6 separate regions of the Homo sapiens genome follow, and regions 1, 2, 3, 5 and 6 are each reported to be linked to region 4. Evidence: microRNA targets listed by miRTarBase, many of them from high-throughput screens and not tested one by one. Region 4 holds a microRNA gene; each other region holds the end of a gene's coding sequence.
The links. Region 4 holds the annotated microRNA hsa-miR-8085 (UGGGAGAGAGGACUGUGAGGC, at 2,319-2,339, opposite strand). A microRNA usually pairs through its seed, bases 2 to 8, with sites in the 3' UTR of a target mRNA and lowers its output. Matches are read on the target gene's strand: a 7mer-m8 pairs with bases 2 to 8, a 7mer-A1 pairs with bases 2 to 7 and ends in A, and an 8mer does both.

Region 1: the mRNA of FBXO40 is a reported target of hsa-miR-8085. Seed matches in the 3' UTR shown: 7mer-m8 at 3,442-3,448.
Region 2: miRTarBase lists CHST12 as a target of hsa-miR-8085. Seed matches in the 3' UTR shown: 7mer-m8 at 3,309-3,315.
Region 3: miRTarBase lists ZNF277 as a target of hsa-miR-8085. The part of its 3' UTR that is shown has no 7-base or 8-base seed match.
Region 5: miRTarBase lists ARC as a target of hsa-miR-8085. Seed matches in the 3' UTR shown: 7mer-m8 at 3,429-3,435.
Region 6: the mRNA of LNX2 is a reported target of hsa-miR-8085. Seed matches in the 3' UTR shown: 7mer-A1 at 3,075-3,081.

Annotation. Positions count from the first base shown.
Region 1 is chr3:121,626,237-121,630,310 of GRCh38, forward strand. It overlaps FBXO40 (F-box protein 40), which reads left to right. Exons shown (of 4, transcript NM_016298.4): 4 at 459-4,059. The coding sequence ends at 674. Among named protein-coding and RNA genes, the nearest start is that of HCLS1, 33 kb to the right of the region's middle.
Region 2 is chr7:2,433,321-2,437,407 of GRCh38, reverse strand. CHST12 (carbohydrate sulfotransferase 12) reads right to left here. Exons shown (of 2, transcript NM_018641.5): 2 at 1-4,087. The coding sequence ends at 3,524. Among named protein-coding and RNA genes, the nearest start is that of CHST12, 32 kb to the right of the region's middle. RefSeq lists an enhancer at 3,489-4,087.
Region 3 is chr7:112,341,934-112,346,020 of GRCh38, reverse strand. It overlaps ZNF277 (zinc finger protein 277), which reads right to left. Exons shown (of 12, transcript NM_021994.3): 12 at 2,087-3,460. The coding sequence ends at 3,292. The region is part of intron 1 of ZNF277-AS1 (ZNF277 antisense RNA 1); the gene reads left to right. Among named protein-coding and RNA genes, the nearest start is that of ZNF277-AS1, 6.6 kb to the left of the region's middle.
Region 4 is chr19:44,756,927-44,761,005 of GRCh38, reverse strand. It overlaps MIR8085 (microRNA 8085), which reads right to left and starts at 2,349; the gene lies at 2,285-2,349. It overlaps BCL3 (BCL3 transcription coactivator), which reads right to left. Exons shown (of 9, transcript NM_005178.5): 4 at 3,785-3,989; 5 at 3,591-3,679; 6 at 3,283-3,360; 7 at 2,593-2,760; 8 at 2,165-2,282; 9 at 962-1,578. The coding sequence ends at 1,391. RefSeq lists enhancers at 1,763-2,412, 3,716-4,079.
Region 5 is chr8:142,609,203-142,613,289 of GRCh38, forward strand. ARC (activity regulated cytoskeleton associated protein) reads right to left here. Exons shown (of 3, transcript NM_015193.5): 1 at 3,282-4,087; 2 at 2,906-3,050; 3 at 1,847-2,655. The coding sequence ends at 3,879. Among named protein-coding and RNA genes, the nearest start is that of ARC, 3.2 kb to the right of the region's middle.
Region 6 is chr13:27,544,687-27,548,773 of GRCh38, forward strand. LNX2 (ligand of numb-protein X 2) reads right to left here. Exons shown (of 10, transcript NM_153371.4): 10 at 1,227-3,784. The coding sequence ends at 3,649. Among named protein-coding and RNA genes, the nearest start is that of LNX2, 74 kb to the right of the region's middle.

The DNA.
Region 1 (4,074 bases), not on the chromosome of region 4:
GTGCTCACTCGGTGGTCTCTGGTGATTGCTGGCACCTCCTAGGACTTCAGCTTTGCAGTTCAAGTAGAGAAAGAAAAAGAGAATCTGCTTTTTGGTATCTCCAACAAAAGTTCTGGAATAAGAGTTGCACTGGTACTAATTGTTCTGATTTGAACTGTGCATCTACTTTAAAATTAATCACTTGCTGGTGGAGGAGCAAGGGAGAGTGTGTGTCAATATGCTGATTGGTGTTAGTGATTCTCACAACTACAGGGCTGGTTGGGAAGATTATTGGTTGGCAGGGGGAACTAGGAATTGGATGCTGGAGGAGGGGCTACCAAATGTCTGCAGGAGCCACTAAACACTCTGGAGTCTAAGAATATGAAGAACAGGAGGATATTTCCTTATAGTGCCCAAATAAAGCCAGCCAGAGGGTAACACCCCTATATTCACCTTTGAACTTCTATCTTTCTCAACAGATCTGGCAGTTCAGCAGCCTCTTCTCCAAAATCAAGAGCTGGGAGTTTAATGAAGTCACCTCCATGTCTGAGCACCTGAAGTCCTGTCCTTTCAACATTGTAGAGCACAAAACTGACCCGATTCTTTTGACTAGCATGTGTCAGCCCCGTGAGCAGGCCCGAGAGAGCTTAGTCTCCACCTTTAGAATCAGACCACGAGGAAGATACGTCTCCTAAAAATTCAGATGCCACTCGATGCACCCTTCTTGGATTTCTTCTCGGAGTTCCTGAAGTAGGACAGAGTGTGTGGTTTTGAGGACTCCCTTCTGTAAACTGCCTATTTGCTTATCGGGGTGTATTGGAACACGCAATGTCCTTCGAAACCTCAACACGAGGCCTAAGAATTTCCTAAGCCATGTCTTGTACCATAGTGCCACATTGATGACTTGTTTCCTTTTTTCTTTTCTTTTCTTTTCTTTTTTCTTTCTTTCTAAAATAGATTGGTCTGAGAAGAAAATAAGTAATTTGAGGCCATTTGGAAGATGGGCCCAATTTCTTAAGTGATGAGAGAGCACGAAATTCCATAACCAGTACAGGCCTGTGCTTTTACATGGGCTTTTTAGTTCACAAAGCACTTTCAAATTTATGGGACAGGAAATGCAGGATGGGACTCCCCAGGGAACGCAGGGTGAAGGGAACAAAGCTGGAGGCTCTGGAGCTGGGTCTGTTTTGACGGTCAAGTCCAGGGCTCATTTTGGTTATTCTACTGCCTCTAGGCCAGGGTAGTCCTAACACAGCCTGACATAGGAGAGCCCCTGGCTGAGCATGGCAGCCTTGAAGACACCACAGGCCAAAACATGAGGGGCAGAAATGGGATCACAGAGTCTGTTGCTAGAATCTTGGCAACATACAGCAGGAAAGCCTTGATAAATCGGGAGTCCAAAGGAGACACCATATTTATGGAGAACATTAGGACAAAAAGTCACCAACTTACTTTGTAACATTTTAATAATGACTTAAGGGTCAAGATTTTTTTCTTCTGAAAATTATGTTCTGAGTTAGGCAGAACATAGCCATGGCCCTGGGCCACCCTGTGCTATCTGAAATGACCTCAATACACTAATGCCAACCTCAGCGTCATGCCAGAATGCACAGGGCAGCCCAGGGAGATCACACCTTTGGCAAAGTCCAGACAAGGCCCACTGCAGTTCCTATGGCGCCAGTCACCAGCTCCTAGACAGCACTTGGGTACCCCATTGGGGTCTTGGAGAGGAAGACATGTGAACATAACGGCTCCCTGAAATTGCTCCTACCCATCCATATTTCTGGTCATGCTTTCAGTCTGACAAAAATGGATGATACTGCTGTTTTTGGTAACAAACAGTGAATATTCATAAGAACAAAAGTAAAAGAAAAAAAGACACAGTAGAAACTGGCATCCCCTAAAGCAGGGCTTCTTAGCCTTGGAACTATTGACATTTTTAAATGGATAATTCTTTTTTTTTTTTTCTAGGTGGGGAGGGGATGGAGTTCACTCTTGTTGCCCAGGCTGGAGCGCAATGACATGATCTCGGCTCACCGCAACCTCCGCCTCCTGGGTTCAAGCGATTCTCCTGCCTCAGCCTCCCGAGTAGCTGGGATTACTCGCCTGGCTAATTTTGTATTTTTAGTAGAGACGGGCTTTCTCCATGTTGTTCAGGCTGGTCTCAAACTCCCGACCTCAGGTGACTCGCCCGCCTTGGCCTTCCAAAGTGCTGGGTTTACAGGTGTGAGCCACTGCGCCCTGCCTGAACTGGATAATTCTTTGTTGCAAGGGACTGTTCTGTGTACTACAGGATACTTGGCAGCATCCTTGGCCTATCCATTAAATGTCAGTAGCACCCCCACAGTGGCAACAATCAAAAATGTCACCAGACATTGCTAAATATTGGGGAGCAAAATGGCTCCCCGTTGAAAATCCCTAAAGGATGTCATACTAGTGACAATAAGTTAGGATATGCTTATTTTTTAGTACAGCAAAATCTTATCGCACATAGCTATCCACAATAGTTATGATTTAATGCAGCTCTTTATTTATGAAATAGGTTTTAGACATGTGGTGATTTTAAGTTGGGAACCAGAAGGAAATGATTCGTTTGGTATGGCTTCATGTCCTTCAGCCACCCCCAAGAATGTATCCTTTCAGCTCTCTTTGGTTATACCTGAAGCCAGGAGCGTTGAGTTATTAGCCTTGTGTTTATATTCCTCTCACTGTAATTGGTGTCATTTTCCCAGCAGTCCTAGCAGTCCTCAAGCAAGTGGGAAATCGGAAAAGAAAAGGACAGGCATTGTAGGGAAGCAGAGGATAAAGAATTTAGCCAACAAAAGAAACAATCTAGTCAATCTGGGTGCTTTTATTTCCTGGGTTCTCTCTAAACATGGCTCAGAGCTGGTGTAGATGAAGTAGGTGAAACCTCTGAAAAGAGTCTAGAAGGCAGTAGAGCAAGTCCCAGACCAGAAACATGCTCATCTTTTCATCGTAATGTGCCACTCGGTACTATTTGGTAATGTCACTCTATTTTTCCTAATCCCATCCTTTGGTTTGTATTTCATATTTGTATATAAGGCACCATTTTCTAAAAATATGACTAGGGTGTGACCTAAGGTTTTATTCTGTGAAGATGAGTAACTGGAAAGAAGCTAACACTGCAGTGGGAAGGAAGGAAGAGAGTTGTCCAGGTGGTAGTTCGACGTGTTTTGAATCTAGTCCTTCCTACATGGAGGATAAAAGCTCCTAAAGTCCACTCTGGGTTTGTGATTTTAATAGAAATAGAAAGGGAAACTATAGACCAATGGAGATGAAAATCAGGGGCTATCGACAGATGGAGGAGAAATAAGGTGCTACATAGAGAAAGGAAGAGGGCAGAAGGCTTTCCCTTCCCAAACTGGGTGAGCTGGGGAAGCCTTGGTTCAGGAGAGTGGCACTGCCCACAACTGCTTTGTGGGTTGTGCACTTCCAGCCGCACTCTCCCCCTCCAGTTGCTGCCTTCAGAGCCGTACTGAAGCACGAGCTTCAATAAGACAAGCACACTTCATAGTGAGAGGGCAGCGGTACCAAAGCCTTTCAGAGAGACTATGGATTAGACAGAAATGATTTGTGAGAGGAAGCTGGAGTGAACAGCATGAACAGCGAGTGTTACCTGACAGAGGCAAGACAGCTAGAAGTGGCTTCAGATTTAGAAACAGCTGAGGGGAGCAAAGACGGACTGTGTACACAGGGAGGGAGGATGTCTATGGGCAGAGCCCTTGGTGAGTATCATCACCAAGAAAGGCAGTCCAGAGTAGAGATCAGCCGAATATGGAGGCTGAGGTCTGTAGAACTGGGCCAGAGAGGACCTTACTGCCTTAGTAGCATAAGGGTCTGGAAAAGAAGTTTCTATCTCACAACAAAGGAAAAAGTGAAAAGCAAGGTGGAACTTGAAGATACGTCACGAAAATCACTATAAAAGTCTGATTTATGTGTGATGTCAAATCAAACTGAAATGAAGAATGAGATTGAGTATATCTGTGGTGACTGACCTCTGTATACTAGAAACCTCAACATCTCTAGAAGAGGAAATAAAAGCTGCTTTGCACTCTGAAAGGCTAATTGGGTGAA
Region 2 (4,087 bases), not on the chromosome of region 4:
CTGTGTCAAATTCCTGGGGCAGATGGAAAATACACAGCATCAGACGCTGGGAGGCGAGTCCAGGAGCAGCCAGGCCGCCCAGCCCAAGCATTGCCCAACTGTAAACGGGCGAGGTGCCCTCCCACTGATTCGAGGCGCAGCCATCACACAAGAGACAGGGCTTTGTGACACCACCCCGCACCCAACCAAGTCATTCTCATGACTGTGCTCAAAGTGTGGACACAGCTGGAGGATGGGGGCCAACAGGGTAAAAGAGTTTTAAGTTTATGGTTAAATTTTCCAGTTGTACGATGCCAATTTTCATAAAATGTATAATTTGCTGTGTTTCAGTGGAAAAAGAAAAAACCAGAGCCAAAGGTCTCTACGCAGTGTGGTGCTGCGCATCAGGCAAACAGCGAAGAATCAAAGTGGGTTCTCCCCGCTCACACCTCCCTCTCTTCCCGGAGACGCCTCCCCTCGGCCCAGCAGGCCCTTTTCTGCCACTCCCATCCGGAGTCATCCCCACGGGCGGTGGCCCCGACCATGGCCCGGGAATCTGAGCAGGTGCGTGGATGTGGGTGGTGTCTTCTGCAGGAACCCCTCCACATCCCTGCAAACACCCCAGGTGCTCAGGAAAACCGAACCTCAGAGGAACCATACCAAGAACTGGGAATGCAGAAATGGAGGGGACGCGGGCCCCCCTCAGTGAGTGAACCGCCCAGTGGGTTCTGACATTCGTCTGAACATCCTATAAACAAACGCATCCCGGGGAGGTGCTCCAGCAAAGGCAGACACAAAGGGCCATGCCCAGAATACGGAAAACAAGCCCTCAGCAGATTCACTGACACCCTGTTCACAGCAGCATTCAATTCACATTCGCAGGAAGGCAGAAGCAACTCAGTGTCCACCAACTGATGAACAGATAAACAAACCATGCCTCTTCCACACAATGGGACATTATTCCGCCTCAGAAAGGAAGTTAGTTCTGACACCTGCCACGACACCGATGAACCTAGAGGACATTGCATGAGGTGAAGTACTTCAGTCCCAAAAGGACCAATACTGTGTGACTCCATTTCTGAGGGAGCTCGGGTAGTAGAAATCAGAGAGTGGAAGCTGCTGCCTTCTACCAATGGGGAGCGAGTGCTGAATGGGGACAGAGTTTCAGTTTGGGAAGATGAGAAAGCTCTGGAGATGATGGTGGTGGTGGCACGACAATACGAATGTGCTTAATGCCACACAACAGTGCACTTAACAATGGTTAAGATGGTACGTTTAAAATTAAACATTTTTATCATAATAAAAAACTTGGAGGGGCCAGGTGTGATGGCTCATGCCTGTAATCCCAGCACTTTGGGAGGGTGATGCAGGAGGGTCACTTGAGCCCAGGAGTTTGAGAGCAGCCTGGGCAACACAGTGAGACCTCATCTCTGCTGAAAATAAAAAACTAGCTGGGCAGGCTGGCGCTCACCTGTAACCCCAGCTACTTGGGAGTCTGAGATGGGAAGATCACTTGAGCCCAGGAGGTTGAAGCTGCAGTGAGCTGTGATTGCACCAGTGTATTCCAGCCCGGATGACAGAGCGAGACCCTGTCTCCAAAAACAAAACAAAACAAAAATAAAAGAAAGCGAAGCTTCAGAAAGGAAGGCAGGAGGTGTCTAACACAGGGGACACCTGAGGCTAGCAGGCACTGGGGGCCAAGACCCACACAAGCCCACCTGAGCCTGGGAAACACAGGGACACCACACACAGAGGACACCAGGGTATGTCCCAACTGAGCGTGGCCAGCAACCAGGGACTGGGCAGTGGTGACAAATACCACACACGAGGAAGACAGGTCAAGCAGGGTGCCCGACACCACGAAATGATTGCAACCATCTCTCCAACTACAGCTTAGAAGCAGAAATAGCAAAGGAGTTTCAGCCAGATGTTTCCAGAGCCTCCTCTGACACTTTTATCAAGACAGGGCCCATCAAACCTGAGGGTTCAAGGTCAGTCGTGTCCTTGAGGGTGAAGGCACTGGAGCTAAACCAACCAGAAAGCCACAGAGACAGTCACACGGAGCCTCTTCTTGGTGACACTGGGTACTGTCATCCAGCACGGTCTAGAGATAAACGCCAAACCACTCCACTCCTGCCAACTGTAAACCTCAACAGCCATAGTTTACTTTCTATTTAATCTATCTATCTACCTATCTTCTATCTGTCTATTTAGAAACAGAGTCTCACTTTGCTGCCCAGGCTGGAGTGCAGTGGCACGATCATAGGTCACTGCAGCCTTGAACTCCTGGGCTCCAGCGATCCTCCTGCCTCAGCCTCCCGAGTAGCTGGGATTACAGGTGTGCACCATCATGTCCGGCTGATTTTCTTATTTTTTGTAGACACAGGGTCTCGCTATGTGGTCCAAACTGATCTTGAACTCCTGGGCTCAAGTGATCCTCCCTCCTCAGCCTCCTGAGTAGCTGGGTTTACAGATGTGCACCACCACGTCCTTTTTATTTTTTGTAGAGATGAGGTCCTTGCTATGTTGCCCAAGCTGGTCTTGAACTCCTGGGCTCAAGTGATCTTCCCCCCTCAGCCTCCCAAAGTGCCAGGATTGCAGGCATGAGCCACCGTGCCCAGCCTTAATAGCCATAATGTATTAATATTTATTTATTTATTTTGAGATGGAATCTCACTCTGTCACCCAGGCTAGAGTGCAATGTCGCGATCTCAGCTCACTGCAGCCTCTGCCTCCTGGGTTCAAGCAATCTTTCCATCTCAGAACTCCTGAGTAGCTGGGACTACAGGTGCACACCACCACACCCGACTCATTTTTTTTTTTTTTTTTTTTTTTTTTTTTTTTTTTTTAGTAGAGACAGGGTTTCACCATGTTGGCCAGGTCTCAAATTCCTGACCTCAAGCGATCCTTCTGTCTGGGCCTCCCAAAGTTCTGGGATTACCTGCCTGAGTCACCCGCCCGGCCTTAACAGCCATAATTTAAACTAGACAGTATGGGAACAGCTGGAGTTAGAAATCCTAGAAATCCTGCTTCTGTAACTGACCGGTTTACCTCTGACTTGACTTCAAACAGGAAGCCCTGAAGATTGACCTTTTCAAGTACAACACTTAAACAAAGAACTTTCCCTCTGGAAGGATTTGTCGGCTACCCTTCCAAAAACAGACAGGTGCGGCCTGACTTCAAGTGCAGGCCCCGCCCTCCTCCGGTGAGTGGCCCTAGCCCTGGAGGCAGCTCCATCAGCCTCAGCATCCCCTCCCGGCGCCCGCACGCTCAGAAAAACCACAGGAGCGGGCGAGCGGGCGAGCGGGCGGGCGGGTGGGCGGGCGGAGGGGAGAGGGGATATTTTACTCCAGCATTCCCTTCCACATTTCGTATTAAATACCTGAAATATATTAATCTTAAAAAACAATATCGATACAGTACTCAATGGATAGAGGCAGTGGAGTGAACAAGAAGCCCAGATTGCAAAATCGTAGGTCATAAAAAAACTGGAGTGCGCGTGCGTCAGGTTCCAGGCACGCGAGAAAAAGCAACGCGAAAGCTTTCAGTCTCGGAGGAGGTTTTCGGGCTTGGGGTAGCCGAAGAGAACAAAGTCGGCCTCGTAGAGTTTATACAGCTGCTGCCTCCAGGCCAGGGGGATCTTGGCGAACCAGTCCTCCTCCCAGCTGCTGGCGGTCCTGTTCCGGTAGCTCGGGGGGAAGCGGAGCTGCCGGTCCACCTGGAGTAGCTGCAGCAGCTGCGCGGCGTCCTCGTCCAGAGTCTCCAGCTTCCCCACGAAGTCGTAGTCGATCTGGCACGGGTGGCAGAGGCGGTACACCTGCCGCCAGTGCTCGTTGAAGGGCGCCAGCTTCTCCGTGTGCGGGTCCAGCAGGTACTGGATGAAGTTGGCGAAGGACACCTTGAGGCCAGCGCGGAAGGCCTCGCGCGCCGAGGCGGGCAGGCTGGTGTGGTTGGCGTACAGCCGCAGCATGGGCACGGCGAACTTGCGGTAGAACTCCTCGTTCTCCAGCTCGAACTTGCTGCGGAAGGCGGAGATCAGGCGCACGAAGGGGTCGCGCACGAAGAGGAACTTGGTGTACTTCTTGAGCTTGACCTTCATGAGGTGGCG
Region 3 (4,087 bases), not on the chromosome of region 4:
TTAGTTTTCAATAAAAGCCTTTCATGGTGTCTGCAGAGTGGGAGGGTTAGAAATCTAGAGCTGTGGCCAGAGCCTATGTAATTAACAAATACAGTTGAGTTAGGACCGCATGGTGGGAGGAGGTTGACTCTTGAGTCTCTGGACAGGCAATACGACTCCAAGATGAGTTTTGGGGCATTACCTACACAGACTAGCATTAATAATTGAAAACCAGAGCCTCAGACTCCAGCATTCTGTAGCACATATGCTGCATAAAGAACACACTGTAGGGCTGGGCATAGTGGCTCACTTGAGGTCAGGAGTTTGAGACCAGCCTGGCCAACATGGTGAAACCCCATCTCTACTAAAAATATGAAAATTAGTCAGGCGTGGTGGTGGGTGCCTGCAGTCTCAGCTACTCAGGAGGCTGAGGTGGAAGAATCGCTTGAGTCCGGGAGGGGGAGGTTGCAGTGAGCCAAGATTGCACCATTGCACTCCAGCCTGGGAGACAGTGAGACTCCAACTCAAAAATAGAAAAGTAAAAAATAAAAATAAAAACCCACTGTAAAGAAAGGTCAGAAAGGCCTTTAGAAGGGTGATTAGGCCAGGAGGACAGCCCTCATGGATGGGATTAATGACCTTATAAAAGGGTTTGCTATAATTTCAATGTTTTGATGTTCCCTCCAAAATTCCTGTTGAAACTTAATTCTTGCTGCAACAGTGTTAAGAAGTGGGGCCTTCAGAAGGGTGATCAGGCCATGAGGGCAGAGGCCTCATCACTGGGATTAATGACCTTACAAAAGGGCTGGAGGGAACTAGCTAGGCCCTTTTGTCCTTCCATCCTTTTGTCCTGTGAGGACACAGCCTTTGTCCCCTCTGGAGGATGCAGTATTCAAGGTGCCATCTTGGAAATAGAGACTGGGCTCTCGAACTGGACACTAAACTAAGATCATGGACCTCCCAGCCTCCAGAACTGTGAGAAAAAAATCTAATTGTTTATAAATTACCCAGTCTCAGGTACTCTGTTATAGTAGCAGAAATGGATGGAGACAATGAATGATAATGGAACATGTTAAATAATATAAAGAAGATACAATCATCCAAATCCAGAAAGCAAGACAACTAATCCAATTGCTTTAACAAATAAGTGGCATTAAAAAAAAACTGTGAATTGTTATAGATTAAAAGACCCTTAAGAACCACACCAACCAAATATAGTGCATGGATCTCACTTGGAACCTGATTAAACAAAACAACTGAAAAAAGACTTTTTTTTTTTTTTTTTTTTTTGAGATGGAGTCTTGCTCTGTCACCCAGGCTGGAGTGCAGTGGCGCGATCTCAACTCACTGCAAAACTCCACCTCCCAGGTTCAAGCAATTCTCCTGCCTCAGCCTCCTGAGTAGCTGGGATTACAGGTGCCCACCACCACACCTGGCTAATTTTTGTATTTTTAGTAGACACGGGGTTTCAGCATGTTGGCCACGCTGGTCTCAAACTCCTGACCTCGTGATCTGCCCACCTTGGCCTCCCAAAGTGCTGGGATTACAGGCGTGAGCCACCGTGCCTGGCTGAAAAAAGACATTTTAAAAAACTTTTAATTTTGAAATAATTTCAGACTTTCAGAAAAGTTGCCATAGTACAGAGAATCTCCACATACTTTTACCTAGATTCCCTAAATGTTAACATCTTGCCATGTTTACTTCATTATTCTATATATACCCTTGTTAGTTTTTTGGGAGTAAGTTGCAAACAAAATGCTCCTTTACCCCTAAATACTTCAGTGTGTATGAATATTTCCTGAAAACAAAGACATTCTCATCCCACAGTACAGTTATCAAAATCTGGAAATTAACAACAATACCATAACACTTACTATAAATCTTACTCAAATTTTGCCAGTTGTCCTGCTAATGTCTTTTGTAGCAAAAGAAAAACTTTTTTTCTTGGTCTAGCATCCAATCCAGGATCATGCTACGCTATCTTTAGCCACCTTTAATCTGAAATAGTTTTTCAGTCTTTGTTTTTTATGATGTTAAAATTTTTGAATAGTAAAGGCCAATTATTTTGTAGAATGTCCTTTAAATTTGGATTTTTTTTTTTTTTTTTCCTTTTTTTGAGACAGAGTCTTGGTCTGTTGCCCAGGCTGAACTGCAGTGGTGTGATCTCGGCTCACTGCAACTTTTGCCTCCTGGATTCAAGCGATTCTTGTGCTTCAGCCTCCCAAGTAGCTGGGACTATAGGTGCATTCCACCATGCCTGGCTAATCTGTGTATTTTTCGTAGAGATGGGGTTTTGCCACGTTGGCCAGGCTGATCTTGAACTCCTGACCTCATGTGATCCTCTGCCTTGGCCTCCCAAAGTGCTGGGATTACAGATATGAGCTACTGTGCCCAGCCTCAAACTTGGATTTGACTGTTTCTTCATTATATCCAAATTATGCATTTTTGGTATAAATCTACAAAAGTGATATTCTGTCCTCCTCAGTACATCTTATCAGGAGGCATATAATATTCATCAGTAATGAAACTGATAATATTGTAAACATACATTTTGAGACAAGTGGGAAAAACTGAAAACAGATGATATTAAGTTAATGTTAATGTTTTTTAGGTGTCATAATGGTATTGTGGTTATGTTTTTAAAAAATGGCATTTAAATGTTAGTGACATACAAATTGCAGGGAAAAGTGAAGTTAACTGGCTTGATGTCTATTTCTAGGGAATTTGGCCACCCTAGGCAGAAAGTGGTAATAACACAGTCAGCTCTTGATTGTTCTAATATAATGGCCAATTTGCATATTATCCACGTCTTTGACCATTTCTTCTTTCTTCTGTGGCTTTTCTTTTAGTCATTACATTTACAGCTCACCCAATATAGTACAGAAGGGATATTCAAATTTTGCAACTTGTTGGATGAAGAAGGTCCTTGGGGAGGAGACTGAAACTACTGATTGAAAAATCAGGTTTATAAATAATTTGAACATTTCATTTCTTTGTAATTGACATATACTTCTATATATAATTATGAGTTTAATGAAGTGAGATAATTTAAGATGATCACACAATAAAACTTTACAGCCAAAATACAAAGTCTTCATCTTATTTTCCTACTTCATTTTTTTTCATGTTCTTAGTAAGTGCATTTTTCTACTTTATTTTTTGAAAAGAACATTCATTTTTGAAAAGTTTATTTCACCAAGGACCAATCTTTTGTTGATGTTCAAATTTAAATTGTTCTTTCATATCTGTCTCATAGGAGAAAAACATGAAAAATTGCTTCTGTGGTAGTTTCTTCTAGGTTTTCAAGTACTCTTATAGTAGCAACTGGTTCAAAATACTGCTTTGTTTCAAAGCATACAGTTTAGATGTATCTTCACTGATGATGGGAACATTTTCATTTTGTTCCTGAGCTGTCAGGTCACTTTCACTGTCAGATAGTGTACACAGGAGAGTGTCATTTTCATAGGTTGGAAAATAATACCTGAAAACAACCACAGATACATAGTATTAAATTACCAAGCTAATACAGTGTCCAGGTAGCTGAATGTACACATTTACTATAATTTTGTCAGGTATCCTTGCCAACAATTTCATAGCATTTTGCAAAGGCTATACTGGAGACAACTTCTGATTGCTTTCACTTTGACTTTTACTGGCTGACATCAACCTTACCAAATCTACTATCCAGATTTGGTAAACCAAGATCGTGGACCTCCCACCCTCCAGAGTTGCCTCTGGAGTTGTCCGCTGGCCACTTAGCCTCTGCTTGATCATCTATCATGATAACAAAACACACTATCTTCGAAGGTAGCTGACCCCAGTAGTGGGTAGATCTAGTTGTTTGATACACCTCCTGTGAAGCTAAAAATGACATCTTTCTCATTTCTACTCAAAGGTCCTAGTTCTTCCTTATAAGTTAACAAACTTCAAATATAGTTAATTTTTCAAACACAAATTATTCAAATAATTGAGAATAATAAGCTCTTCCTTGTGTTTTGTTTTCCAGCCTAATAGTTCCTTCTTTCTAGGTAATCACAAAAGGAAACACTTACGGAATATAAAGTTTGTTATTCTGGTTCCTTCTCTGAATACATTTTGAAGTTACTTT
Region 4 (4,079 bases):
TAGCCAGGCATGGTGGTGGGTGCCTGTAATCCCAGCTACTCTGGAGGCTGGGGCAGGAGAATCTCTTGAACCCAGGAGGCGGAGGTTGCAGTGAGCCGAGATCACGCCATTGCACTCCAGCCTGGGTGACAGAGTGAGACTCCATCCCCCCCCAAAAAAACAACAACAAAACCACAGATGTGGTCCATTAGAGGGGCCCCATGGAACCACTAAGTAAAACTGTCTCACGCCATGTGAGGCAGTCACAGGGCAACAATCACAGCATCACCCCAGATCTCAATGTTAGGAACACTCCCAAGCACCACGCACTCGGACAGCCAGAGACGATTGGGGCTGAAGTCAGCTGTGGGTTATCACCAGGACCCCCACACTACAGAAACACACATGCCCAGGGTCACTACGGAATCCAACAGGGTGCCCTGGAAAGATATCACACACCGGCCAGGTGCAGTGGCTCATGCCTGTAATCCCAGCACTTTGGGAGGCCGACACAGGAGGATCATGAGGTCAGGAGTTCAAGACCAGCCTGACCAACATGGTGAAACCCCGTCTCTACTAAAATTACAAAAATTAGCCAGGTGTGGTGGTGCACACCTGTAATCCCAGCTACTCGGGAGGCTGAGGCAGGAGAATCGCTTGAACCGGGGAGGCGGAGGTTGCAGTGAGCCGAGATCGTGCCACTGCACTCCAGCTTGGGCGACAGAGCAAGACTCTGTCTTGAAAAAAAAAAAAAAAAGATATCACACACCACGTCCTCCTTAGAAACAATGGTACAGTGACAATGATGGCAACATTCACAACCAAACACACCAGAAGTCCCAGAGTGACACACAGGAGATTGTCTGTCTGAGACTCACAACATCACTCTGGGAGTCAACTGGATTCAGTGCACGGGTGTGCACACACACGAAGGCACTTCCGCCAGGTCCATCTCATGAAAGAGGCCCATGCACCCAAGGGATATGGTACAAAAATAGTTTATTACAAAAGAAATCCAACCAAAATGCTTAATAATTTACATCGTGATCCGTGCCCGTTACGGCCCACCTCTCCCCTCCTCAGTTATCTGGTAGAGAGTGGAGGGGAGTGGCTGTTCCCTGGGTCCACCAGCTCTGGGAGGGGACATGGAAATGGAAGATGTGGGTGGCATTCCGGACAGGGACTGGTGCCTGAGAATGCTGGGGTCAGAGTCCTGGGAGGGAGCGAGATGGGGGAACATCTGTGCTCAGAAGAGGGGGTGTATGGGTAGGTGCATGTGCTTCTGTGCAAATCCTGGTCCCGAAGATGGGGGGGGGGGGCAGAGTGAGATCTTCACAGTTTCCAGAAGGGTTGACCCCACAGGGCAGGGGGGCCCCTCCTCATGAGTCCAAGATCTGCCCCCCCATCCCCCTCAGCTGCCTCCTGGAGCTGGGGAGGGGGGCACCGGCCGGCCAGGGCCTCGGAGGACCCCAGCAAAGGGCAGGAAGGCGGGTGGAGATGGGGAAGGAAGGAAGAAATTGGGAGGAGCCATGGGGAATCCAGGGGGGTCCCTGGGGGGAGACTGGGAGGGTGAGGAGGATGGTGATGCGGAGAGAAGACCTGAGGAAGGAAGAGAGACAGAGGGGTGGGTGGTGAGAGGCTAGACCCAGAGAGCAGGGGCTGGGGCCTGAGATCTGGGTCTGAGGGAGGAGGGGCTGGGGGTCTGGACTCGGGTCTGAGGGAGGAGGGGCTGGGGATTTAAACTCCCGGGTCTGAGGAAAGAGGCATCTGGGGACCTAGACTCCTGGGTCTGAAGGAAGAGGGGCCGGGGGTCAGAAGGAGGAGGGGCTGGGGGTGTGAGGGAGGAGGGGCTGAGGTCTGAGGGAGGAGGGTCTGGAAATCTGGACTCCTGGGTCTGAGGGAGGAGGGGCTGAGGTTTGAGATAAGAGGGGCTGGGGGTATGAGGGAGGAGGGGCTGAGGTCTGAGGGAGGAGGGGCTGGGGGGTCTGAAGGAGGAGGGGCTGGGGTCTGAGGGAGGAGGGGCCAGGGGTCTGAGGGAGGAGGGGCTATGGGTTGGGATTCCTGGGTCAGAGGGAGGAGGCTAGGGGCCTGGACTCCTGGATCTGAGGGAGGAGGGGCTGTGGGTTGGGATTCCTGGGTCTGAGGGAGGAGGCGCCAGGGCTGGAGGTTGGGAACGGTTTCTCACCATTGGAGCTGAGGCGGCTGCTGCTCTCGGGGGAGGTGTTGGCGCTCCGGTCAGGGGAGGGGTCTGGCTGGGAGGTGGAAGCAGGCCGGGTGGCCTTCCCCCTCAGGATGTCGATGACCTGTAGGAAGATGGGCGTGACCATAGAGCCACCCATGCCTCACAGTCCTCTCTCCCATCCCTCCTAGCTCACTGGATCCAGGTGGTGGCCTCTCCACTTCTCAGTATGAAAAGATGGGCAAGGCACTTTTTTTCTTGGTGCCAGTCTCTCCTCATTTCTGGAACTCACACCCGCGCTTTCAGAGGCTCACCCACTCCCCTCCACGCAACGGCACAGACACCCTCACTCCTCTGCGCTCTGGCACACTCGCCTGCAACCAGCCCGCGGACACACGTGTGCAAGGGGCATGTCCACAGCTGCCCCGGCTCACCCTGCGGCTGCGCGCCACCATGAGCGGCGTGTCGTTGTGGCAGTTCTTGAGGCTGCTGTCAGCGCCGCTGCGGACCAGCGTGCGCACCAGCGGGAGGAGCCCGCGGCCGGACGCTGAGTGCAGGGCGGAGCTGCCGGAGTACATTTGCGCGTTCACGTTGGCGCCGTGCTGCGGGACGGGAGGGCCGGGTCAGGAGGGCGCGCGGGCCACCCGGGGTAAGGGAACAGAGGCTGGAGGCCCGGGTGGGTGGCCGGCACGTGGGGCGGCACCGGATCGGGGTGGGGTCACAGGAAGGTAGGAGCGAGAGCCAAGGGCAGGCCAAGCGGGACTGCGTTGGCGGCGATGAATTAACCGGAGCTGGACACCGAGGCCCGCGCCCCAAGGAGTCGGGGGAGCTGGAGGGGGGAAGGACAATGCGTGGACAGGGCCTAGCTGGAAGGCGGGGTCAGCCAGGCCATCGCAGGGCGGGGCCTAGGCCGTTGAGGTGGCAGAGGAGGAATGGGACAAGTTCGTAGCCAGGGGCGTGGAGCCCGAGGGTCGAGAAAACTAGGCCTTAAAGGATCAGAGCTGGACGCGGAGCAGGAGCCGGAGCCAGAAGTGGAAGGCGGGGTCAGAGCTAGGGGCTGAGGCCAGAGCCGGGTTGGGGTCAGAGGATAGGGTGGGCGCGAGGCTCAGGGGGGCTGTACGCACCTGCAGCAGCAGCTGCACCATGCTAAGGCTGTTGTTTTCCACGGCGTGGATGAGCGGGGAGCGGCCGCTCTTAATGTCCTGCGGCGGGGAGGGAAGGTCTTAGTTTCTCCAAGCTCTGCTCCAGCAGCCGGCGACCCGCATCCCGTCCACATCCCATTCGCGGGGTCCAGCCTCTCTCTTGGGTCTGATACTCCAAGCCCCACCCCACCCGGGTGCTCTCCCACGCCAGCCCCACACTGGCCCCGCCCCCGCCAAGACCCCGCCCCTGCTAAGGCCCCGCTCCCTCCCAGCTCCTAGTGCACGCTCACCACTGCGTCGATGTCGGCACCGCGCTCTAGCAAGAGCTGCACGGTTTCTTGGCACTCGGTGTTCACTGCCACGTGCAGGGCGGTGAGCCCTGAGGGAGAGGAGGGCTCGGTGAAACCTAGGCCCGGGCTTTGCGGCCGCTGATGGACTCCAGGTCCGCTGGACAGCCCAGCGGTGCCCCGCGGTAAATGCTTACCGTCATAATTGCGGGCCTCCAGGTCCAACGTGCCCGGAGCTGCGCTGTCCAGCAGGGCTCGCAGGCAGGTCGGGCTGCGGTGCTCGCACGCCAGGTGAGCGGCCGTCTGGCCATGGCGGTCCAGCGCCATGGGGCTGGCACCAGCTGTCACCAGGAGCCGGACCACAGACGGTAATGTGGTGATCACAGCCAGGTGGAGCGGTGTCTGGGGAACAGTGACTGTGAGGGACCTGTGTCCAGCCCTGCTCTCTAGTCCTGCCTCCCCCAGGTTTTCTGAACCCTTATTCCTCATCCT
Region 5 (4,087 bases), not on the chromosome of region 4:
ACATTTCCTGGCAGCAGGTGGCTCTCTCTGCTTAGTCTCCTCTTGTTTCCTGCTCTCCCAGGGCCCCTCGCTGCTGCAGGAGCAGTGAGCTCAGTGCCAGAACCCTGCAGGTGCAATGCACCCGGCCTCCCAGCAGGGCTCAGCTGACACCACCCACCAGCTGACCCCGCAGCTTGGCCCGGGATCCCCAGGAGCAGGGCAACCCCACCAGAGGGGTGGGAAACTTCCGGCAGCAAATGACCATGATGGTTGTGAGGGTCAACCTTGCCGGGGTACTGCTCTCAGTCACTCAATCAAATCTTAACAGAGGTGTTGTGCCGAAGGTCTGTCGTAGGTGCTTTCAGGAAGAGCATCCTTGGGAACCTGGGTGGCCTGGTTGAGTCCCTTGAAAGGCCATAAAAGCAGAGCTAAGGCTTCCCAGATGCAGACGAAATAACACCCTCACGTGCCTGTTTCAGCCCCTTCCCCAAGGTTCTGGCCTGCCCTGTAGATTTTGGACTGGCTCAGCAGCCCGTACGTTGAGTAAAACAATTCCTTGCAATGAATTTCCTGTCTCCTGTCAGTCCTGTTTCTCATTGAACACTGATGGGTAGGGGCTGATCCCTAACCCAGGCCATCTCTTTTTTCCCCTCAGAATCCAGTGCCCCCCCAAAGGCAGAGGAGGCTGACGTCCCGCAGCCCCTCAGAATCCAGTGTCCCCACAAAGGCAGGGGAGGCTGACCTCTCACAGCCCCTCGAAATCCAGAGTCCCCCCAAAGTCAGGGGAGGCTGACCTCCCGCAGCCCCTCGGAATCCAGTGTCCCCACAAAGTCAGGGGAGGCTGACGTCCCGCAGCCCCTCGGAATCCAGTGTCCCCACAAAGGCAGGGGAGGCTGACGTCCCGCAGCCCCTCGGAATCCAGTGTCCCCACAAAGGCAGGGGAGGCTGACGTCCCGCAGCCCCTCGGAATCCAGTGTCCCCACAAAGGCAGGGGAGGCTGACCTCCCGCAGCCCCTCGGAATCCAGTGTCCTCACAAAGGTGGGGGAGGCTGATGTCCCACAACCCCTAGGAATCGTGTCTCCACAAAGGCAGGGGAGCCTGACCTCCCACAGCCCCTCGGAATCCAGTGCCCCCATAAAGGCAGGGGAGGCTGACCTCCCACAGCCTCTTGGAATCCAGTGTCCCCAAAAAGGCAGTGGAGGCTGACCTCCCGCAGCCCCTCGGAATCCAGTGTCCCCACAAAGGCGGGGGAGGCTGATGTCCCGCAGGGCATCAAGTTACCCTTGTTTCCAAGTTCTTCAGCACAGATGCTCTGAGGATAGATGCCCTGCTTTGCAGATGAGGAAACTGAGGCTCAGAGAGACCAAGTTCATGATCTGGCAACCAGGAATGGCCAGGGTCCCCTCCCAGCTGGGGTCTGCACTGACTAGGTCCACAGGGCTCCGGAGCCTGAGATGGCTGTGTGGGCCAAGCCCTAGTTGTAATCCCCCCATGCACCCAGCTGTACACCCCACGTGCCAGTAGGACTTACAGAGGGGCAGGCATGAGCTCAGCATGAACAGGGCTGCCCCAGTCAGCAGTCACCCTCACTGATGGCCACCTCGGGCCTGGAGGCAGGGCTGAGCTAGGCCTAGTGGGCTGCAGTGGGGCTGTAGTGGGGCTGCAGTGTGGATCCCTGAGGGTGCTTCCCCCTGAGGATCCAGGACCCTGATGGAGGCTGCCCTGTTGGTGCTCCCCCGAGCCCCCGGAGACCTCTCACTACACCCATGGGGTCTCCAGGGTGACCCTCTGGGCCGGGGGACCTGTGTCTGCAGCTCCACCCCTGCCCAGCCCAAGCACACAGAAGAAACAACATGAACACTCCAGGAAGTTTCAGTGTTTTATTAACAAAATCTTACAAAAAGAGTCTGTCTCTGGGGTAAGGTGCACAGGGCCTGGACCGACATTTAAGGCCTGGTCTGTGTGGGGCAAGGGGCAGGGGTTGGCCACAGCCTCATGAGGTTTCCAGGGTCTTCACAGGCTCCAGGGCTTCCCCAAAGCCTGTGCCAGCCTTGAGGATTGGTTATGGCTTATGTGCAAAAATAAAATCTGTGGGGCTGGCAGGGTGTGGGCTGAAGACTTGTCAGAGTGGTCTGCAGGGCTGGTCCCCCAGTGGACAAGGCAGAACGATGAACCCTGAGCCAGCACCTGCTTAGGCTGCAGACGCTAGTGGCCCACCAGCACCAGGGTTCTGGTGTCGGGGCAGGGCAGAATGCCTGGAAGCGCCCCAGGAGCCATGGCTTCTGGGATGTCCTTCCTGCAGCTGAGCTCAGGGCTGCTGGGCAGGGGTAGGAGCTGTGGCCCCAGCCTTGGGGCTCATGAAAGCCTCTGGCAGAGAGGATGGCCTGGCAGCGGGCGGGGTTTCCCTGCTGGGAGGGAGGCAGGGCCCGACTCCTGCTGCAGTGGCTCTGGGGACGGGCAGCTGGCGGCCAGCGGGGCGGGCTTAGTGGCAGGCCCTGGTCCTCGCGCTGGCGCTCAGGGCTAAGCTGGGGCTCCTGCCCTCTGCTGCAGCCGACTCCTCTCTGTAGCCCCCCTCTGGGCTGTCCTGGGACTTCGCCTCCCACGCAGGCAGCCTGCAAGGTGAGGGGTGGGTGGTGCCCAGCACAGCAGCAAAGACTTTGTGGGAACCTTGAGACCTGAAAGAACAGGAGAGTGGGCAGTGAAGGACCACGCAGGACAGTAGCCAGGGCTCCATGGGGAGGGGCTGGGGCCGGTGGATGGCGCTGGTCTTCCAAGGCAGAGGCCCCCCGACCCCGTCAGAGCCTCCCAGCGAGCCCGAACACTGGGGAGTGGCCTGGGCCGCAGGGTGTCTGGGGTCTGGGGAGGAGCTCATTTGGCCGGGACAGCTGATGGTGGGGTCTGGGTGGAAGGGTGGTGCTCCGTTACCTGTTGTCACTCTCCTGGCTCTGATGGTGCCAGCTGCTGCCTCAGCCGGATTTGAGGACTCAGCCCCTCTGGGACCCTCCGCCTGCCATGGGTGAGTCATGAGCTGAGCTCTGATTCTTCTCCAGGCGGGCGTGAATCACTGGAGCTGGGGGAGAGAAAGCGCGGGTCCATGTGAGAGCTGGCTCAGCAAACTGCCCCTGCCTCCCACCCGGCCCACTCTCCCCAATGCCCCCTTCCATGATGCCAGCCCCACCCCATCCCTTTGGCTAACTTGCTGGGGGCCCAAGCCTCAGTGGGCTCTCCTAGAAAACAGCCTCCGGATCCCGCCAGCTCTCAGATGCCCCACAGCCGGTACTGCCTTGGGGCAGGGGCTCACCTGAGGGGCCAGGAAGCACCGGGACATCAGGTCTGCTCTGCTGCGTGTGCGACTTCTACTCTCCCCTGGGAGGAGGGGGCCGCGCTGCCCGAGGCTGGCCAGCTGCCCTGGGAGGCAGGGAGGGCGTCAGCTGGCTCTGCGGATGCCGGGAGAGGGCGGCGGCGCCGGAAGTCGAGGCTCCCTCAGCATTGGCTCTGCCCTAGCTTCTGCTCTGGGTGTCCCATGAGCTTGGTGGCCGCTGGCCCCTGCCATCCGGACACTTGGTTTTCTGGATGTCCAGAGGGCCTGGGTGTTGTAGCAGAATGAGGAAGCTGGGGTGTTCTGTGATGGCCTGAGAGTGTGGAGGGTGGGGTCCAGGCCGGAAAGACAGACGGAGGGAGGGTGATGGGTGGAGCCCTGCAGGGGGGAGGGCTCTTTGCCGCTGGGTGCGGTGCTCACATCTGGATGACACGAGTGTGTGCGAGTCCGCCCGGAGCTCGAGGGGGCACCCAGCTGGACCAGGGCTTCCCCTGCAGGAGTCAGCCCCAGCTCAAAAGTCCTGGTGGGCAAAGCCACAGGCTGGATGTAGTGGGCAGGCTGGGGGCTCCGGGATGCCCTCTACTCGGGCTGGGTCCGGTCACTGGCCACGGACTCGCTGTTGGGGGCGGGCGTGAGGGTCTCCGCCTCATCCTCCACCGGGAGGTGGGGGCCGGCCGGCTCGGCCGCCTGCTCCAGGTCATCCTGCACCTCCATGCCCCTCTGGATGAGCTGCTCCAGGGTCTTGGGCAGGGGGTGGCGCAGGAAACGCTTGAGCTTGGGCTGCAGGG
Region 6 (4,087 bases), not on the chromosome of region 4:
CACCACACCCGGCTAATTTTTTTGTATTTTTAGTAGTGTGTTAGCCAGGATGGTCTTGATCTCCTGACCTCGTGATCTGCCTGCCTCGGCCTCCCAAAGTGCTGGGATTACAGGCGTTAGCCACTGCGCCCAGCCAAATGAAGATTTTTAAACAGGGCAAGGATATGATTAGAGTTGGGGTTCAGAAGTTACTCTCAAGGCTTAAGAGTTTGGATTGAAAGATGAAGAGATAGGAAGTAGGCAAATGCTTGGGAAAGCACAGATTTCAGTTTTGGAGGTGCTGAGATCTGGGTGTCTGTCTCAGGCTGTGGACTGTGGGAGCTGTAGACTTAGGTGTCAGTGGTGCTCAAAGTTGCAAGGTTAAAGATGGTACTTAAAACTCTAACTAGGTAGCAAGAGATCGAGGCCAGAAGAAATGCATACACAAAGGCCTACGGAGATTCACCATTAGGAAGGAAAGTGGGGAGTGGAGTTGAGAGTGAGACACATGGAGCGTCACTTAAGCCCTCACTCCAGATATGGGAACAACGTGAACCAGCAGAGAAGAAAAAGCTTTACAGTTGGAGGAAATACTGTAAGTGTGTGCTCTGAGGAGGCTGCTGGAGCAAGGGAGGGTAAATGGCACCATGGAGCCATCTGGACAATCCAATTAGGAGTCTGACCACAGAGGCCTTGGTTTGAACTTAACTTACCAGAAAACTAGGAGACAACTTTCTTTCTTTCAGTTACAAATTTTTTTTTTCCTAGTAACCATATTAGAAAAGAAAAAGAGGCCAGGCCTGGTAGCTCACCTCTGTAATCCCAGTGCCTTGGGAGGCTGAGGCAGGTGGATCACCTGAGGCCAGCAGTTCGAGACCAGCCTGGCCCACATGGCAAAACTGTCTCTACTGAAAATATAAAAATTAGCCAGGCCTGGTGGTGGGCACCTGTAGTTCCAGCTACTCAGAAGGCTGAGGTAGGAGAATTTCTCAAACCACGGAGGCAGAGGTTGCAGTGAGCCAAGATCGTGCCACTGCACTCCAGCCTGGGTGACAGACCGAGACTCCATCTCAAAAAAAAAAAGGAAAAAGAAAAAGAAACTGTGGGGTGAGAATAAGGTGGGTTTGTGATCCTGAGGTTTCATGCTCGGTGCTCGGTATATTATAAGGACAGTGGAGCCAGCAACAAAAATACAGATCACAGACTAAGTCAACAGCTGCTGTTCAAGAAAAGAGACAACGTCACTATTACAGAAAGGATGACTTTTATTTCCATCCTGAATGATTCACACCATTATTTAAACATCTGAAAAATCCTGAAATAATTTAAACTGAAGGCACAGAACAAACCAAAATATTTAACTATCAGAACTAAAAATGAGAAAATCCAAATAGTTCTATAGTAACAATAAATTATGAACAAGTTTCCGTCACCAAATATCACTCTGACCAAAAATGACTGTCTTTTGTCATAAAAGCTACAGCTTAAGCTGATTCCAAGATTTCTATAAAAATGAGAGTGAAGAAATTTCTTCTTTCAAAATACTCATTATGCCACCAGGTTCAATGTAAGTATTTTGTATATAACAAAGTAGCAGTCAGGATATTTGTTGATGGATGGCTACTCCCCAAGAAATGACACATTCTTACAAACTTTAAAAAAATAGCAAAGTTGGTTACAAAATTCTATTTGGGGAGCAGGGAAAAAACTTGTTCCATGTCAATTAGAATATCAAAGCATTTCAAAATCAAACTGCTTCCAAAGCCAATCATCACACAACAGTAATATACTGTATGGGCCATTCCACTGTATCTTGTTATATGTTGATCATACAGTGTAACTAAGGGGTTGAACAAGTCAGTAGCAATGATTGTTGCTGTATCTTATTCCAAATAGATATGTTTTTTAAAAATCATTATAAAACTAACTGAAATAATCAGTGACATGCTACAGATACAATAAACCCCAGCAATACAATTGCTAAGTTTCAAAATAAAGTGGTCATGCTTCATAATATATTGTACTGTAGTATTCTGAAATACATTCTCTGATTATCAATACCATTTATTACAGAGGTCACTTGTAAATTTGCTCAGATTCTGAACTAGGTTTCTAAATGAAATTTTTTTCAAGTATGTATAATATTAATAAGGTAAAGATATTTTTATCTTATTCACTTATTTATGTGTTCAGAGGATAAGTATGTTGAATAAAGGACAAAAAATGGGCTAGTCATAATTTTCAAAAACATTTCAAAAAATATGAAATAGTCTAGTGACTGAGAGCTGACTGAAAGATACATCTAAAACCTACATTTCCAACAAAACAGAACTTTTCTGTCTCCTACTTGAAACAACTAATCTCATAAGAAATAATGGGAAAAATAATTGTTTCTAAAATACACAAGAAATACTCCTACCTGAACAAAATAAAAAGGTCTCCCTTTCTCCTACTTAGCTGTGATATATAGGTATTTAATAATATGGTTTTATCTTTATCATTTCGTTTAATCGCATAAATCACAAAAACATTTCTAGCCAAGATTACTGCTAAGAATAACACAACTCTAGAAATAATTTTTTAGCAAAAACTACTTCAAAATTTCCCTACATAGCAAAACATTCCTCTGGAAATAGATTTTTAATGCTTTTGGGCTGTTCAAGTAAGTGCAGCTTTACCATCTCTAACATTAAGTTATAATTATCATCCAAATTCCTTTGTAACTGGATAACATTATCTTTTATCCTCTACTATTCTAATAATAGTATATTAAGAAATTTCTTTAGTGTTGTCAGACTTATTTCTTCATCTTCTATGAATATTGAGAGATTACAGTAGAAATAAACCAGAAAATCAGTTTATAAACAGTATGAAGTTTTGAAATGTTGGCACCAATAAAAAATGGGAACGGCCGGGTGCGGCAGCTCACACCTGTAATCCCAGCACTTTGGGAGGCTGAGGCGGGCAGATCACAAGGTCAGGAGATCGAGACCATCCTGGCTAACACGGTGAAACCCCGTCTCTACTAAAAGTACAAAAAATTAGCTGGGCATGGTGGCACACGCCTGTAGTCCCAGCTACTCGGGAGGCTGAGGTGGGAGAATGGCGTGAACCCAGGAGGCGGAGCTTGCAGTGAGCTGAGATTGTGCCACTGCACTCCAGCCTGGGTGAGAGTGAGACTGTGGTTCAAAAAAAAATGGGGAACAGTTATCACCAAAATTTAAAGTATATTCATTCATGGTATTGGTTATGACAGTGGCAGTACACGCTGTTGTTACTGGCTTTGCTGACATCAGGCCTGAGGGATACAGAACTCGTTCTATGATTCAGTTACTGAAAACAAAGACCCACCAGAAGGTCTTTACTCCATCTGGGGCACAGTTTGGGTGAGCTTTGCTCATTACCATAGGTAACATTTTAACAACTAAGTCTGAATTCTGAAAATATAAACTCACAAAGGTTAGTGGAAGACTGTTTCCAAGCTAAAAGAAATGTAACTAACTTAGGAAACCATTTAAATAAACATAAACGGACAATCTTAGTGGGTTTTGGCCCTGTGTATACCAGCAGTGTCAGCAGCTCCTAAACCACAAACACAATGAAACCAAAGGGTTTTCTTTCAAAAATCTAAAAAAGGAAGATGCAAGATTTGAAACCAATTTCCAAAATCTATACAAGGCTGCCAGGCCAACAAATAACGGTCAGAGTGACTTTGTTCCTCTGCTCCTTCAACATGGGAACTAGTGCAGAGTGGCTCATGCCCACGGTTGACAGCCCATTTACGGCCACAATCATGTCACCACACCTGGACAAAGAGAGACAGATACAGAATGTTACTATTTTCATGGTATTAAAAATATCCCAATTGAGATTTATGTAGCATGAAAAATGCGGTTTCACTTACCACTGAACTGTCAATGGTTAGGGTGTATAATCTACTTTGTCTGGGACAGCCCTTAAGCCTATGCTGGCTTTCCCTTGCCAATCAAGGAAACCCCTGTGCCGATGACTCCATAACCAGTAGGTGAATGTCAAGGACAAGCAGAGTAATTTTCACACTAATTTAAGCAAAATATAGAGTAAATATGCTCTCTCTTTAAAAAAATAC